Regions from separate parts of the Homo sapiens genome. Here region 1 is linked to region 2. Evidence: fine-mapped expression QTL. A gene starts in region 2. The other region holds a variant in brackets. All regions are shown on one strand. Distances are between the middles of the regions. Region 1 overlaps AP2A2 (adaptor related protein complex 2 subunit alpha 2). Region 2 holds the start of AP2A2 (adaptor related protein complex 2 subunit alpha 2).

Evidence for each region.
Region 1: its variant is fine-mapped to the expression of AP2A2 in whole blood (INTERVAL, PIP 0.98).

What each region holds. Positions count from the first base shown.
Region 1 is chr11:992,700-1,001,015 of GRCh38, forward strand. AP2A2 (adaptor related protein complex 2 subunit alpha 2) reads left to right here. Exons shown (of 22, transcript NM_012305.4): 12 at 585-682; 13 at 1,055-1,286; 14 at 1,373-1,546; 15 at 7,733-7,899. Among named protein-coding and RNA genes, the nearest start is that of MUC6, 40 kb to the right of the region's middle. RefSeq lists an enhancer at 1,585-2,109. The variant C/T (reference allele first, on the strand shown) is at 5,034.
Region 2 is chr11:921,511-929,826 of GRCh38, forward strand. It overlaps AP2A2 (adaptor related protein complex 2 subunit alpha 2), which reads left to right and starts at 4,360. Exons shown (of 22, transcript NM_012305.4): 1 at 4,360-4,578. The coding sequence starts at 4,512. RefSeq lists a silencer at 4,172-4,711.

The sequences.
Region 1 (8,316 bases), 71 kb after region 2:
ATGGCAGGAAGGATGGGGTGGAGGGCAGTTGCAGAAGGTGAGCAGTGAGTGGTTCCAGCCTGCCTGCGTGGAGGTGCCGAGGGCCGTTGCTGACCCCTCTTGCCCCTCAGCTCTTCCCTGAGGCTCTAGCTCCTCCACTGTTGGTGCCCCTTGCTGAGTCCCAGTTTCTTCTCACCCTAACTCTCAAACTTCTGGCTCTCTGGGGGCCACCTGAGAAAGCCGGCCTCTGTGTGTGTGAGAGCATGCTGGGGCATGCCGTGGTGGGGCCTGCCCTGTCCGTCGGAGAGGGTTAGGCCACCGGCAAGGGGTGTGCCATGAGGACGCTGGCAGAACCTCCCCAGCCAGAGCCTGTTGTGGATGCTGCAGCTCCCTCCAGGGCAGGTCAGCGTGTGGCAGCCTTGGGTTCCTTGCTGCTGACACAGGTACTGAGGGTGCTGAGGAAGGCAGGGATGGGCACTTGGACTGGGGTCTCCAGGAAGCTGAGGGGCTGGTGCTGGTGTAGGGTGCACCGCGCCAGGACGTGCCCGCCTCGCCTTAACTCTGGCACCTGGCTGCCACCCCGGCTCATTGTTTGTGCTTCGCAGGCTCTTCAGGCTCCCGCGTGCCACGAGAACCTGGTCAAAGTGGGCGGCTACATCCTGGGGGAGTTTGGAAACTTGATAGCTGGAGACCCGAGATCCAGGTGAGAGGCCCTTTGCGAGTCGGGGCTGTGTGCGCTCCGGCGGGCCTCTCGGTGGTCGGTGGCAAGAGGCGAGGCACCAGCTGGCCCTGCCGTGAGGCCTCGCAGAGCCGCTTCTGCTCCCCATCGGCGTCTTTTTGTTTTCCTTCAGTTGATAGAAAAAGCAGGGATTCTAGTAGAAAATGGAGACGTGGGGTTGATGGCTGACTTAGTGAAAGGGGCGTCTTTGCGGTGGGATCTGGAGCTGGAAGAGGGTCCCGACCAGCGGCCTCTGGTGCAGGCCAGGGGGTCTCGCCGCCGTCCCCCCCCCGCGGGGGCGTGCTGCAGCCTGCGAGGGGACGACGGTGTCCCTGTGTTGTGCCTCCCCGTCCCCAGCCCGCTGATCCAGTTCCACCTGCTGCACTCCAAGTTCCACCTGTGCAGCGTCCCCACCCGCGCGCTGCTCCTGTCCACCTACATCAAGTTCGTGAACCTCTTCCCGGAGGTGAAGCCCACCATCCAGGACGTGCTGCGCAGCGACAGCCAGCTCAGGAACGCAGACGTGGAGCTGCAGCAGCGTGCTGTGGAGTACCTGCGGCTCAGCACCGTGGCCAGCACCGACATTCTGGTAGGAGGCCCCCGCCCTTCGGGCTGGCTTGGCTGAGGGTTGGAGGCCAGGAGCTCTGACCAGTCCCACCCTGTGTTCTTTCCAAGGCGACCGTGCTGGAGGAGATGCCCCCATTCCCGGAGCGGGAGTCCTCCATCTTGGCAAAGCTCAAGAAGAAGAAGGGCCCCAGCACGGTGACAGACCTGGAGGACACCAAGCGGGACAGGAGTGTGGACGTGAACGGGGGTCCTGAGCCTGCCCCAGCCAGTACCAGCGCCGTGGTGGGTCCCTCACCTACTGTGCACCCAGACCTGTCAGGGCCTCACCCCCAAGACTTGGGACCAGCAGAGCATTTGCCTGTCAGGGAGGAGCATGTACTGAGAACCCAGGCTCTGGCTGTGGCTCTGGACACCCCGCTGTCCTGTCCTGGGGGCCACTGTCCCTGCTGGACACGCTGCTGTCCTGTCCTGGGGGCCACTGTCCCTGCTGGACGCCACGCTGTCCTGTCCCGGGGGCCACTGTCCCTGCTGGACGCCCCGCTGTCTGTCCCGGGGGCCACTGTCCCTGCTGGACGCCCCCCTGGCCTGTCCCGGGGGCCACTGTCCCTGCTGGACGCCCCGTTGTCCTGTCCCGGGGGCCACTGTCCCTGCTGCACACCCTGCTGGCCTGTCCCGGGGGCCACTGTCCCTGCTGGATGCCCCCCTGGCCTGTCCCGGGGGCCACTGTCCCTGCTGGACGCCCCGTTGTCCTGTCCCGGGGGCCACTGTCCCTGCTGGACGCCCCCCTGGCCTGTCCCGGGGGCCACTGTCCCTGCTGCACACCCTGCTGGCCTGTCCCGGGGGCCACTGTCCCTGCTGGACGCCCCCCTGGCCTGTCCCGGGGGCCACTGTCCCTGCTGCACACCCTGCTGGCCTGTCCCGGGGGCCACTGTCCCTGCTGGACGCCCCCCTGGCCTGTCCTGGGGGCCACTGTCCCTGCTGCACACCCCGCTGGCTTGTCCCGGGGGCCACTGTCCCTGCTGGACGCCCCTCTGGCCTGTCCCGGGGGCCACTGTCCCTGCTGCACACCCCGCTGTCCTCTCCCGGGGGCCACTGTGCCTGCTGGGCAAGGCACTTCCTTCAGACCGTCGTCTTGTCCAGCTCAGCTCACACATCCTCTGTGGTGCCTTGTTTTAGGGGAAGTGGCCGTCCCCTCTCCTACAGGACTGCCTCACCCAGGCAGCTGTCCTCACATGCTTTGTTGATTTAGAGAGGACCTGTCCTGCCCTGCTCTTCGAGGTTTTATGTAGTGAGTTGGGTTAGGTCTGGTTTTCCTTGTATGTGTGATGCGATGAGAATAATCCTGTAACAGAATGTGTCCTGTGGTATTTGTCAGGTGAGAAGTGTCGTTTTGAGAGTTGCGTTTTTGCTTGGCTCTGCTTGCCAGCTGTTCCCCTCTGCACTGTCAGGGAGGGCTCCTGTCGGGGTCAGGCGGGCTTTCTGTTTGTCCAGTTAGAGGACCTGTCTCTCCAGGACGCAGGTCCAGTGGTGGCAACCAGTGCTGCTACCCAGTATCGGCAGGGCTTTGTGGGGTGAGCTCCTGTGGTGGTGCCTGCCCTGGCAGTGTGCTGGTTGGGAGGGTGCTCATGTCGGAGTCCTGGCACTCCTTGGCGGGGACCTGCTTATGTGCCCCGGCTGACCATGTGTCCTGCCCCTCTGGCCGACAGTGCAGGGCCTGCCATGGGGCTGGTATCCAGGCTGAGCCTGACATCTCAATGAGCAGTCTTCCCTCCCCCTCTTCCTCCCTCTCCCCTCCCTCCACCTAGTGTCCTCTGTGCAGCCCCTGTCCCCCCGTGCCCTCTCTCTGTGTTGTTTGTGGCACGCTGCTGTGCCCGCCATCTGGAGGCTTGAATTGCCTGTGAGCTCATCCTGGAGTGAATGAAATGAATGAAAGATGTGACTCTTTCTCCCAAGGTGGGCGTCTTCCCTTCACGCCTGAGCACCTTCATGCTTATGTTTCTCATGTGCTCTGTAGAGCTGGTGACCTGCTTTTGACCCTGTCTCCTCCCGTGGGACGTCACTAGCCAGGCGCCTAGTGCAGCAGGCCTCTGTCACTCCTCTAATCCATCTCTCCCTCTCCTTTGGACATCTTGACATAGGTTTCTGGAGGCAGAAACTTGCTTGTGGAGATTTGTCTGTGAGCTGCCGGAGCAGGGGCCTTCCCGTGGGTGCTGGGCCGGCAGCGGCTCCGCCCTGCAGAGAGGAGGACGCGGCCCCAGTTGGGTGAGGAGGCGAGGGCAGGATGACGTGATCCAGGGGAGGCTGGTGTGCAGGGATTCCTGGAGGCCGGCTTTCAGCAAGGGCACTGTGAAGTCTTCCACGGAAACCTGGGATTGCCTGTTGGAAGCTGGGAAGGCACCAGGTGCTCTCGCTCCCCTCCAGCTGCTTTGACGTTAAGAGGAACTCGCTGAGGGAGCATGGAAAGGGGCTGTAGGATTGTCTTCAGTCTCTCTTTGGTTCTTATTTGATGTTTCTTTTTAATGTGGGTCCTGAGAAGTGAGGTGTGCCCATACCCCAGGCCTTTGATCACACCCAGGTTTGTCCGGCTAGGCTCAGGGTGGACTTTGGAGGGCCTGGCCTTGACTGTGTGGCTTAGGGATCAGATGGAAGCTTCTGGACCCTGGGAGTGAGAGCAGTGTGCTGCCCTCTGAAAAGGAGGATGAGGGTCCAGTGAGGTTCAGCATTTCTGTAAGGTGCCTTCTTGGAGGGAGTTCCCCCTTCAGGGCTCATTCAGTGGATTTTCTGAGTGTGGCTTCACTCCTGATGGTCAGTGGTGCCTGGCGGGTGGGTTCCTTAGGGAGGTGTCTGTGGCCGAGGCACGCAGCTCTGTTCTGAGCTGAGAGCTGTGGTGTGTGGGCACCTCCGTCCTGACTGAGAGCTGTGGTGTGTGGGCGCCTCCGTCCTGACCGAGAGCTGTGGTGTGTGGGCCCCTCTGTTCTGACCGAGAGCTATGGTGTGTGGGTGTCATTGCTATCCTGTGCTTTCCAATCTGTTCCCATTGCTCACGGGAGCCCCAGTGAGAGGCCCCTCCCTATGGGGAGACACTCCTGGCGAAGTTTTCTTGCTCAGGGTCTTCTGTATGGGCCGTGAAGGGGCCTCAGGGTGGCATCAGCACATGTGCCTTTCCCACGAGAGACAGTGGCTTTATCTTGGTGTCACATTGGCCAAAATGTCTTTTATTTAACATCATAGATGAGGCCAGGACATTTTACTTCTTCCGAGCATCCTCTTTCTGCACACAGCTCCTTGGGGGAGGCTGTGGTGTGCGTGTCCCCGGGTGTGCTGGGGAGCACAGGGGTGTGGGGATCAGAGGCTGCCTGGCTTCACATGCAGGAGCCTGGGGCCCTTGTAGGCAAAACCTTCACCCCTCAAGTTGTCCTGCTATTGGAGGGAGGAGGTGAACTGGTGTGGCCCAGGAGCCAGGCCTGCTCCCTGAGGAGGGTCTCCCAGGCCTGAGAGGATAAGGAAGATGAAGAACCTGAAGTGGGTGTTAGGACCCTACTGTCCTGGGGCCTTGCATCTGGCCTCGCTGTTACAATCTGTGGTAACGTTTCAGGTACAAATGCCTTTACTAGGGCAAAGGGCTTTCCTACTTTAGAAAGCAGTTAAAAGCCATAGATGGCTGGGCATGGTGGCTCACACCTGTAATCCCAGCGCTTTGGGAGGCTGAGGTGGGCGGATCACTTGAGGTCAGGAGTTTGAGACCAGCCTGGCCAACATGGTGAAACCC[C/T]GTCTCTTCTAAAAATACAAAAATTAGCCAGGTGTGGTGGTGTGTGCCTGTAATCCCAGCTGCTCGGGAAGCTGAGGCAGGAGAATTGCTTGAACCCAGAAGGCGGAGGTTGCAGTGAGCTGAGATTGCACCACTGCACTCCAGCCTGGGTAACAGAGTGAGACTCGGTCTCAAAAAAATAAAATAAAATAAAATAAAAGCCATAGATGTATTTGAATCAGTGCAGGAACCAGGGTAACATCTGTGATGAGATGCAGAGGAGAAACTGTCTCCATTTGGGCTGCAGGTGCATGGCCATGGCCAAGGCCGATGGCTTCCCACGCAGCTCACAGCTTTGTCAGGCTGTGGAGGCCACAGTGTTGGCGGGCGCTGTCCCCGGCGTAGGGAGCAAAGCGCCGCCTTCAGATGGTCTCATCGAGACACGCCTTGGATATTTTTGGGACTCTTCTCTGCCAGCTCCTCTGTGACCTCCCACCCTTGGAGCACATGAGACCCGTGTCGTCTTCTCTTGCAGAGGTGCTCCGTCACAAGAGCAGAGCCTGGGAGCCTGCCCCGTTTCTGACTGCCCCCCAATCCCCATTCTGACTCTCACCCGCCCCCATTCTGACCCCCCGCCCCCATTCTGACCTGCACCTTTTTTGCATAACACACTTTGTGATGCCTCATTTATCTTTGAGTAAAATTCATATATCACAAACCCACACATGTAGTTTTTTTGAAAGTACAGTGTGACACCTTAACTTTGCATTAATGTAAAATGGCATTCAGGTGGAGTCTCAGATAATTACAAACTAATTTTTTACCTTCTTAGATGTCCAGTGGAACATTCTAAAGTTACTCAAGACGAATCTTCAAGTTAGGGTGTCTTGTGTCTCTGTTTTTTGCCTGTGAAATGCCAATATCCTTGTGATAGTCAGAGCCCTCCACATCTCCAGAACGCTCTTAGCTGGGTGGGGGGTTTCTCCACCAAGAGCCCCTGGTGTATAGTGTCAAAGTGTGAGTGTTGCCAGGCTGTAGTTCAGTGGTACGATCTTGGCTCACTGCAATCTCCGCCTCCTGGTTTCAGTTCTCCTGCCTCCACCTCCTGAGTAGCTGGGATTACAGGCGTGTGCCACCACACCCAGCTAATTTTTGTATTTTTAGTAGAGACGGGGTTTCACCATGTTGGCCAGGATGGTCTCAATCTTCTGACCTTGGGATCTGCCCCCCTCGGCCTCCCAAAGTGCTGGGATTACAGGTGTGAGCCACCGTGCCAGGCTGGGTGTCCTTTTTATAGGGAGCATCTGAGTCCCTCTGGTGCACAGGCTGCTGTGGGGCAGGACCCGTGGAGCCCAGAGCAGGTCTGAGCTCCCAAAGTCAGGCTGCTGGGGCATTGCTGGGGAGCCTGCTGCCCTGTTGGATGGGTGAGCATGCGATGGACTGAGCTGCTGCTTGTGCCCTGTTGTGAGAGTTTAATCATGAGATCATAGGCGCTCTTTCCTTGTGCCTTTGCCCCAGGATCAAAGAGCAATTACTGGGGCCGGGTGCGGTGGCTCATGGGAGGCCGAGGTGAACGTATCACCTGAGGTCAAGAGTTCGAGACCAACCTGGCCAACATGGTGAAACCCTGTCTCCACTGAAAATACAAAAATTAACTGGGCGTGATGGCGGCCACCTGTAATCCCAGCTACTTGGGAGGCTGAGGCAGGAGAATCGCTTGAGGTGGAGGTTGCAGTGAGCCCACACCAGTGCACTCCAGCCTGGGCAATAGAGTGAGACTGTCTCAAAAAAAACAAAAACAGAGACAGTCTCTTGCTATGTTGCCCAGGCTAGTTTTAAACTCCTGGACTCAAGCAGTCTTTCTGTCTCAACCTTCCAAAGTGCTGGGATTACAGGTGTGGGGCACCATGCCCAGCCAAAAAGCAATTATTTTTTAAAAGTATCCGTTCTGTAGACTTTTAATGATTAATAATGATTTAGTAATAATTTAATGATTAATAATGCACCCGAGTAAGTTATTTGCTTTTTCATCTTTGGAAGCTTACTTTCTTATTGGACAGTTGGCAGTAACATGCATGATCTTAGTTCTTTCTTTTTTTTTTTTTTTTTTGAGATGGAGTCTCGCTCTGTCGCCCAGGCTGGAGTGCCGTGGTGCGATCTCGGCTCACTGCAAGCTCCGCCTCCCGGGTTCACACCATTCTCCTGCCTCAGCCTCCCGAGTAGCTGGGACTACAGGCGCCCACCACCACGCCCGGCTAATTTTTTTTGTATTTTTTAGTAGAGATGGGGTTTCACCGTGTTAGCCAGGGTGGTCTCGATCTCCTGACCTCGTGATCCGCCCACCTCGGCCTCCCAAAGTGCTGGGATGACAGGTGTGAGCCACCGCGTCTGGCCTTTTTTTATGTCTTTCATGGCAAAATTTTTTTGAGAATTTTTTTCATTCAAATAGCATTTGTGAAAAAATGTAGGGTGCCTTAGTGAAATTATGACTGATGTTTTAAGTGCAGTTATCTTTAGGCTGGAGTCTGGGATATACTCAGGAAGTGGCTGTTAGCCCTCACTCTCTGGTCACTCACTGAGTTGTGTGCCACCTGCCCCAGCCACTGGGAGTGCATGGATGCCAAGGGGGTGCCATGGGGGAGGACGTGCAGGCGTGAGCTGCCTGGGGTTGGCCAGGCCAGGGAGGCTCTCTGCTGATGCTCTCCTTCCTTCTCTTCCAGTCTACGCCTTCTCCGTCGGCAGACCTGCTGGGTCTCGGGGCTGCCCCCCCTGCCCCCGCGGGCCCCCCACCCTCCTCCGGCGGCAGCGGGCTGCTCGTGGACGTGTTCTCAGACTCGGCCTCTGTGGTCGCGCCTCTCGCTCCTGGCTCCGAAGACAACTTTGCCAGGTAGTCAGGTTTCCTGAGTCCTGCAGACAGGCACGGGGCTGCCGTGCCCCCTGACTTCTGGTGTGGCCGCGGCCAGCTGGACAGAGGTGGGCAGCGGAGTTTACCTCCCAGATTACTGCCTGGGGGAGAGAGCGGGAGCTGCTGTGTTGTGGGTGGGTTTGCTGTGTCATTCCTCTCACAACCTTGATTTATATGGACTGCAGTGTTCATTACTCTCAGGAGGAAAAGGAGGACATGAAAGAAACACACTGTCTGGGTGGTGGTTGTGTCCTGTCTGCACGGTGATGTCCGATCATGTTTCAGCTGCTGTTTGAGTGTTGATAAACACTCTTTGTAGCTACACGTCTCCTCTCTTCGCCTCTTTCCTGTCTAGTTGGGCTGCTTTTCATTCTGACTTAAGCCGTCTTGTCTGTGTCT
Region 2 (8,316 bases):
CTCTGTTGGCCCAAGGGTGCCCTGAGCCGGTAACCCGTACTAGGGGCTGCTTGGGACAGACCTTGATGATGTCATCACCCTGCCACCTAGTGGGGTGTCTGGCCTCCTTGGCCTTAGTCACCCCGAGCTGCCCTTCTCCTTTGAGAGCAGGGGGCCTGCTGATGTGGCTGCACCCCCACAGCCTCAGAGGACGGCCCTGAGAGCCTGTGAAGGTGCTGGCCTTGTGCAAGTTACACATCTCCAAGCCTTTGGCAGGAAGGGTCTCCTTAGGAGAAGCTGGGCAGGTTCAGTCCCTGAGTCCTCTGAGCCCCTTTTTCTGCATTATGTCCAGGGATTTCTGTCATTGTAACCATGTTTTAGGGGCTGCCCTGCATGTAGCTTCCAGGAATTTGGCCCAGCAGCAGCCGGACGGACCCTGGGCTGCCAGGCTGGCTCAGTTGATCCAGACACCGTGGGTGCTGCAAAGGACCCAGCTGTTGTCCGGGGCCTGTGTCTCAAAAGCCATCCTACAAGTGTTCTGTGGGGTTTTGTTGACAGAAACTCAGCTTCCCGCTGTTCACAGGTGCCCAGTCATCCCCCTCTGTGCGATTGTGGGTGTGGATGTGTTGGGGCCTGACTCAGGATCAAGGGCTGAGCTGGGCGGGGACTCTTGGGAAGTGGGGCTTGGGGTCCCAGGTTATCGAATTTACCCCATGCCAGTTCTCTGGGCCCCGCACAGCACTGCAGCTCTCCCGCCAGACGTCTGGGGAGGCTGCACCTCCCACCCTGGTGGCTGTTTTGCTGCTGTCTGGGCCCAGCTGTGAATGGCTTTGTATTCCTCCGGCTTTGCAGTGGTGAGAAAGATGTGTGGTCATGGCAGCTCCCACCCGCCCCGTGATGAGCACTCAGGAGCCTGAGCTCATCTTCTCCTCCTTCAGGTGGGCTGGCTATACCTGACGCACCCACCCACCGCAGAGTTCCAGAATGCACCCCTCATGCCTCCCACCCTTCCATGGCAGGGGACAGTCAGTTCCCACAGCCTTCCCTGAGCATGTCACTCCTGGGGACTGCAGGTGCTCAGATGATCACGGGGGGGCCACAGGGTCTGAGCATGCCACCTCATTGTCCCTGAACTCTCATGAGTGCACAGGGACCAACTGTACATGGAACATGCTGCCAGACCCTCTTCTGGAAGGGTCATTGTCTGCAACTTACGCCAGAGATGATGAGAAGGAAACTGGGTCATTTGTAAAACAGACATGTTCAGGTCTGGGTAGGACCCAGGGCATGGCCAGCTAACGCTGCAGGGGCTATATGTTGGGGAACCCTGCTGCAGTGAGACAGCACCTCCACACCGCAGCTTGGGGCCCCAGCCTGTTTTCCCTTCATGATGCCCACGTCGGGCTTGTATCTGTGGACCCTGGCTTCCCCATGGCTGTGGATGAAGGAAAGCGACTCGTCCCCACCTCTGCCCTTGGGAATAGTACTGTGACCTTGCGTGGCTAAAGTATGACAAACGTTCAAATAATTTAAGAAATGGCTGGGCGCGGTGGCTCACGCCTGTAATCCCAGCACTTTGGGAGGCCGAGGAGGGCGGATCATGAGGTCAGGAGATTGAGACCATCCTGGCCAACATGGTGAAACTCCACCTCTGCTAAAAATACAAAAAATTAGCCGGGCGTGATGGTGCGTGCCTGTAATCCCAGCTACTGAGAAGGCTGAGGCAGGAGAATCGCTTGAATCCGGGAGGTGGAGGTTGCAGTGAGCCGAGATCATGCCATTGCACTCCAGCCTGGGCGACAGAGCAAGACTCCATCTCAAGGAAGAAAAAAAAAAAAAAAGAAAGATACTGAGGCTAGGCACAGTGGCTTGTAATCTCAGCACTTTGGGAAGCCAAGGCAGGAGGACTGCTTGAGCCCAGGAGTTCAAGACCAGCCTGGGCAACATAGTGAGACTCCATCTCCACAAAAATCAGAAACTTAGCCAGGTGTGGTGGCGTGCACCTGCAGTCTAAGCACTTTGGGAGCCAAGGCAGGAGGATGGTTTGAGCCCAGAAGGTCGAGGCTGTAGTGATTCATGATTGTACCACTGCACTCCAGCCTGGGAGTCAAAGGGAGAAACCCTGTCTCTAAAATTAAACATAAATAAATAAATAAATAGGCCAGGCATAGTGGCTTGCATCTGTAATCCCAGCACTTTGGGAGACACAGGCAGGCGGAATGCTGGGATTACAGGAGTTCAAGACCGGCCTGGGCACCGTGGTGAAATGCCATCACTACAAAAAATAAAATAAAGAAAAAGAAACTGTTTCCTAGGACTGCGCACTCCCGAAGCTGGCCTCTCCCGAGCCGAGGAGTGGCAGTGGTCAGAGAGGCCCACATGGACTCAGACCCAAGGCTGGGACTGGAGTGAATCATCTGGAGGGCTTGCGTGTCTGCAAGGGCAACGACGCTGGAAGGAGGTGGGAAGTCTTTTGCATGGCTGCATGTCGGGCCTTCTGGGACCCCTAAACACTCTTGTGTGGACGGGAGGATGTCTGTGGGAATCCCAGAGCTGGCACTGAGGAGGAGTCTTCCGAGTGGGCGGAGGGGGATGCCTGCCAGGCCCAAGCCCTCCTGTGGGCAGCCCCTGCAGCACCCCCATTGCCCTGCTCTGTGAGTGGCTGCTGGTGGGGGGGCACAGTGGTCTGCTTGTCTCGGTCTTCTGCACTGCCACTGCCAATGGGAGCTTGGATTAGGCATGCCAGCCTCCTGACGCCCAGAGCCCATGCTCTGCCCACGTGTGTTAGTGGACGGTCCTCGTGACTGCTGGGACTGTCCTGGAGAGCAGCCCAGGACCCCTCACATGGCACAAGATGCTCTTGTGTCCAGAATGGCCTTTATTTGTTGTCAGGGACAGGGGAGGGAAGCTTCTTGGTGGAAGGGAGAGGCTGAAGAATGAACAGCCCCGGGACCACTTTCTCTGCCAGGAGGTGGCACTGGGAGAGGATAGGGACTCCGGAGGGGTGTACCGTCCTCCAGGAAGCCCTCTGCTGGGTCGGCTCCGTGCCTCTGTCTTGGGAAGTGATGGACTTGGTTGCCTTATGCTGACTGGGGTCTGTCACAGATCTTGGTTTTCCCCAGGAGTTCTGGAGGCCCAGAGCCTGGGTGCGGCACCCGGTTCATTGGGGAGGGGCATGGGTCCTGTGCCCTCCTCCTGGCCGGGCTCCACCAGGGCTAAGCTCTCATCTGGGGCTGCGGAAGTGAGCCAGGGTGGGGACAAAGCCCTGGCTGGTGGGTCTGGGCCAGTTCCAGGTACAGGGTCCAGATCCCCCCACTGCAGCAGGAGGGAGCTTCCTGTTCAAAGCCATCTGGCTCTGGGAAGGACAGTGAGGCAGGGCCATCTGCTTCCCCACTCCCTGGGGTCTCTTCCTGGCCGGGACCTGGAGCTGTGCAGCCTGGCCCAGCAGGTCCTCCCTTGCGATGTGTCCACAGGGGTGGGCCTAGGCCTCCAGCTTGCAGTGGTGCAGAGGGCTGGGGAGCAGAGGGGGCCCTGGCAACAGTGGCCAAAAGTCCTGGCGCCGCCGAGGGACTAGATTCCGCAGGGGCTGCCGCCCCCGGCCGCTGTCACTGGGGTGGGGTGGGTGGTTGTTTCTCTGCAGGCCCAGGTGATGTGGAGGGGGCACCTGGGCTGCCACACAGACCCTGGGCTGGGTCGGGCACGGGGCCTGCCTCGCCCCCAGCTCAGGGACCGCAAGAGATGTGGCCCTGGCGGCTCAGGGCGGCAGGAGGGGCGGGCCAGCCCCACCGTCTCAGGATACCGTGCTAGGGGAGGGTTTCCTCGCCAAAGGCCGTCCAGCGGCTGTGACCCCTTCGCCTGGAGCCCCAGCTTCCTCCCGGCGCCGCCCTCCCGCCCCGGCCCCCGCGGAACAAACAAGGCCCTGGCCTCGGAGCTGCCCCGCCGCCCAGCGCTCACAGGTCGTTTATTCCAAGTAAGAAAACGGAGACTGCTCGGGGCAAGCTAGCGGGGCCGAGGCCCAGGACGAGGCCGTACGCGTGTGCCTGCGTGGCCGCCTCTTTTGCAGTGACCACCAACAACGACAGAGGCGGCCCGCTGCACACGCGGGTTCCCGCCCGGACCCACGCCCTTCCCGTGGGGGACGCGGGCGGCATCGCCAGCTTGGCGCGGCCCCGGGACGCGAACGCGTGGCTTCAGCGGCTCCGTCCATGGTGTCCGCCTGCAGGGGGCGCCCCCGCGCCTGCCTCGACCGGCTCGCCCCCGTGCCGCGGACGCGCGCGCGCTGCCTCACGCGACACCCGCCCCGGCCGCCGTCCGTCGTCGCTCGCGTGCGTGCGCGTGCGTGCTGGTGCGGGCGCCGTACGTGCGCGCGCGCGGCGGCCCAGAAAGCGGCGCTGGGACCCTGAGGCGGCCGTGGTTAGGCGGCTCCCCGGCGGCTCCTCCGCGGCGGTGACGGCGACCGCACTCCCCGCTTCCCGCTCCCCGCGCTCCTCCGCCCGGGTCCGCCAGCCGAGGCCGCTCCCGAGCGTCGGAAGATGCCGGCCGTGTCCAAGGGGGACGGGATGCGGGGCCTGGCGGTCTTCATCTCGGATATCCGCAACTGTGAGTGGCGGGGGCGGCGTGGGGCCGGGGCCGGGGCCGCCGGCGGAGACGGGGTCTGGGAGCGGAGGCCCGGGGCGGGGCCTCGAGGCGGGGGTGCAGGCTGGGATGCGGGCGGGGCCCGGGGCCTGAGGGTGCGGGCGGCGCTCGGGGTCTTGGGGTACCGGGTCTGGGGGTGGGGGCCAGGGTGCGGGGTGGGGGTCCAGGGTCTGGGGGTGCGGGCGGCGCTCAGAGTCTTGGGGTATCGGGTATGGGGGTGCGGGTCAGGATGCAGAGCGGGGCCCTGGGTCTGGGGGTGCGGGGTGGGGTGTCCAGGGTCTAGGGGTGCGGGGTCTAGGGGTTTAGGGCACGGCCCTTCATCCACATCTCCACTCCCGTTTGCTGGTCCGTGCGGGGGGCTGCGGCACCACCAAGGGGGTTCCGGGCCAAGACGCCCCTCCCCAGCATGATGTCACCTTGGTCTTTCTAGTACTGGAGCGTTTAACCCAGCGTTTTCCAAAACGGCGTGGATTTTAGCTTTGGGAGCAGAAATCTGGAAATCAGTGTCTTCCCAGGAAACAGCTTTGTGACCTGGGTTCTGGAGGCTTATTAACCCCTGATTAGATCTCACCTACGACGATTAAAATGACTCATTCCCGGAGGGAATCTGGACACGAGCAGCAGTCGGGGTGTGGGATGGCCTCGCTGCCTGCTGCTCCAATCACAGACCTCGTTCTCAGCCCCGTGCCTGTCCCCTCGGGGTGGGAAAAATCCACACCAAACCGTTAAACAAGCCAGGAAGGCTGGGCCTGTTAGAAGGATGTGCAGGGTGGCTGGGTGGGTGCACCGGTCCACCAATTAATTTGACTTTGGTGTGCAGAACCTCCTCTTGGCTTTCAGAGGCCATCTCCTTATTTAATTTGAGGGAGAAACAAAGCCAGTTTCCTGTCTGCTGCGTTGATTTTTTTCCTTGTTATCCAGCAAATAGTTGACTTCATGATTTTTGTTTTTCTTTTTTTTGAGACAGGGTCTTGCTCTGGCTCTCAGGCTGGAGCGCAGTAGTTCCATCACGGCGCACTCAACCTCCCACCTCAAGTGATCCTACCACCTCAGCCTCCGGAGTCACTGGGACTACAAGCGTGCACCACCACCATGCCTGGCTGATTTTCGTGTTTTTTGTAGAGATGGGGGGGTCTCGCCATGTTGCCTAGGCTGGTCTCGAAATCCTGAGCTCAAGTGATCCACCTGTCTTGGCCTCCCAAAGTCCTGGGGTTACTGGCGTGAGCCACGGCACCCTCATAATTTTTAATGTGTATTTTGAGGGACTGTTGTGATCTTCCCTTTGAATTCTCATCTCCTTAGACGGGATGGAGGATCAGGAGGATAGTGGTTCTCCCACACTCTGTGGAAGGGTAGAGGACCATCTAACCCTTCCTGTACTCTGTTAAAAAAAAAAAAAAAAAGCATAGAGCTGGGTGCGGTGGCTCAAACCTATAGTCCCAGCATTTTGGGAGGCTGAGGCAGGTGGATCTTTTGAGCCCAGAAGTTTGAGACCAGCCTGGGCAATGTGGTAACACCCTGTCTCTACAAAAAAATACGAAAATTAGCTGGGCGTATTGGTGTACACATCTATAGTCCCAGCTACTTGGGAGGCTGAGAGAGGAGGATCACTTGACCCCAGGAGGTTAAGGCTGCAGTGAGCTGAGATCGCGCCATACTCCAGCCTGGGTGACAGAGTGAGACCTTTCTCACAAAAAAAAAAAAAAAAAAAAAAAAGGCTTAGAAACACCCTCAGATCAGCACTTTTACGAGTAGCATTTTTTCTCTTTGTTTGTTACATAATGAGACCAACATGCATTTTGTAAAACTAAGTGTGTGTATTATTTCTTAAGGGGACCTCTGGGACAAAGACTGAGTACCCTTAAATGCGCTATGATGTCTGTCCTTCCATTTTTGAAGAAAATTGCGTTAGGCAGGACAATGAGATTGAAAGCCATTTCCTCAGACAGCAAGTCACCCACTTGTCAGATATATTGTCTGTGCCAGGGCCTGCGTTTGACAGGATGGCGCCTACCACAGTGAGTGCGGTATAGCCGTCCTCCCTTATTTGTGGTTTCACCTTCTGAGGTTTCAGTTACCTCTGGTGATCTGAAAATAGGTGAGCATAGTACAATAAGATATTTAAAGAGACCACATTCATATAACTTTTATTACAGTATATCATTACAGTTCTTTTTTATTATTGGCTTCTGTTAATCTCTTACTGTGCCTAATCTGTAAGTTAGACTTTTTCATAGGTATGTGTGGGAAAAAAGCAGCTTGTATAGGATTTAGTATCATCTGAAGTTTCAGGCACCCACTGAGTGCCTTGGAACGTATACCTGTGGATATGGGGAAACTGCTGTACTCTATAAAATACTTGACTATATAGACCAGACTTTCTCCAACTCAGCAGAGCTGACATTTGGGGCTGGATCACACTTTATTGTGGGGAACTGTTCTGTGCCTTTTAGGATGTTTATAGCAGCACCAGTTGCCTTAGTTGTGATAAGGAACAATGTCTCCAGGCATTGACAAATGTGCCCTTAGGGCAAAGTTGTCCGCCGTCGAGAACCACTAGTGTATCCCATTGAATAACACAGCCCCTCCCCTGAAGGAGCTCGTAGAAGAAGGGGTGCTTAGTCCTAGCTGGGGGAGCCAGGTCTCTTTAATACGGCCCCTTTCTCGGAATCCTCTTTCCCTCATTGCTGTTGGATGGCCTCTCATCAGCTGCAGCGCCCACCATTCTCCTCCTGGGCAGTGTCTTCAGCTTGTGGTGCTGCTTTTCACCTGAGTGGCCCCATCTCCCCCACTGCCCTCTAGGGTGGCCTCTACAAGGTGCGCACCCTATCTTGCTCATCACATTTTTCCTGCTGTTCTCCTCATGGCGAGCGTCTGGCATGCGAGGTGCATGCCAGAGAAGACCTCACAAGGAAGGTGATTCTTGGGCAATTCAGGCAGAAGACCAAGAAGGTATTAGAGGAACAGCAAATAATTAATGTATATACGTATTGAGTTAATGAATGTTGGCTGGTGCCTGGAGACGGGATTGGAGAGCCAGCCAGGGTTTGAGCTGATCTGAACTTGACCTCCATGTCACAGGCAGAGGGGTCCCCGCTTCCCCTTTCCCTGGCCAGCTCTGATTTTGTGTGCTGTTTTCCTGTCATGAGAGTGAATGATAGGAGTAGTCGGGCCCTGTGGAAAGAGGACTCTGAGCCAACAGCCAAGGCTCTTGACCCTGACTCTGCCTCTTAGCAGCTGCATGAGTGGAGGCCACTGGCCATGGAGCCTCAGTTTCCACAGCGGACAGTTGAAGGGCTGGATTTTCAGCTGAAATATCATTAAAGCTGCGTGAGTGGAGGCCACTAGCCACGGAGCCTCAGTTTCCTCAGCTGACGCTTGAAGGGGCGGATTTTGAGCTGAAATATCGTTAAAGCCTGTTTCAGCTCCAAATTTGCGTCTTTCTGACCAGTTTCTTAAGTTTTCCTCCTTTAGCCTGGGCAATATAGTGAGACCCCTGTCTTTTCAAAAGAGAAAAAAGAATTAGCCAGGCGTGGTGGCACGCACCTGTGGTCCCAGTTACTCAGTGGGCTGAGGTGAGAGCATTGTCTGAGCCCTGGAGGTTGAGGCTGCCATGAACTCGGATTGCGCCACTGCACTCCAGCCTGGGCAGCCTGAGGAGCAGATTGAGACCCTGCCTCAAAAAAAAAGTTTTTCCCCTCC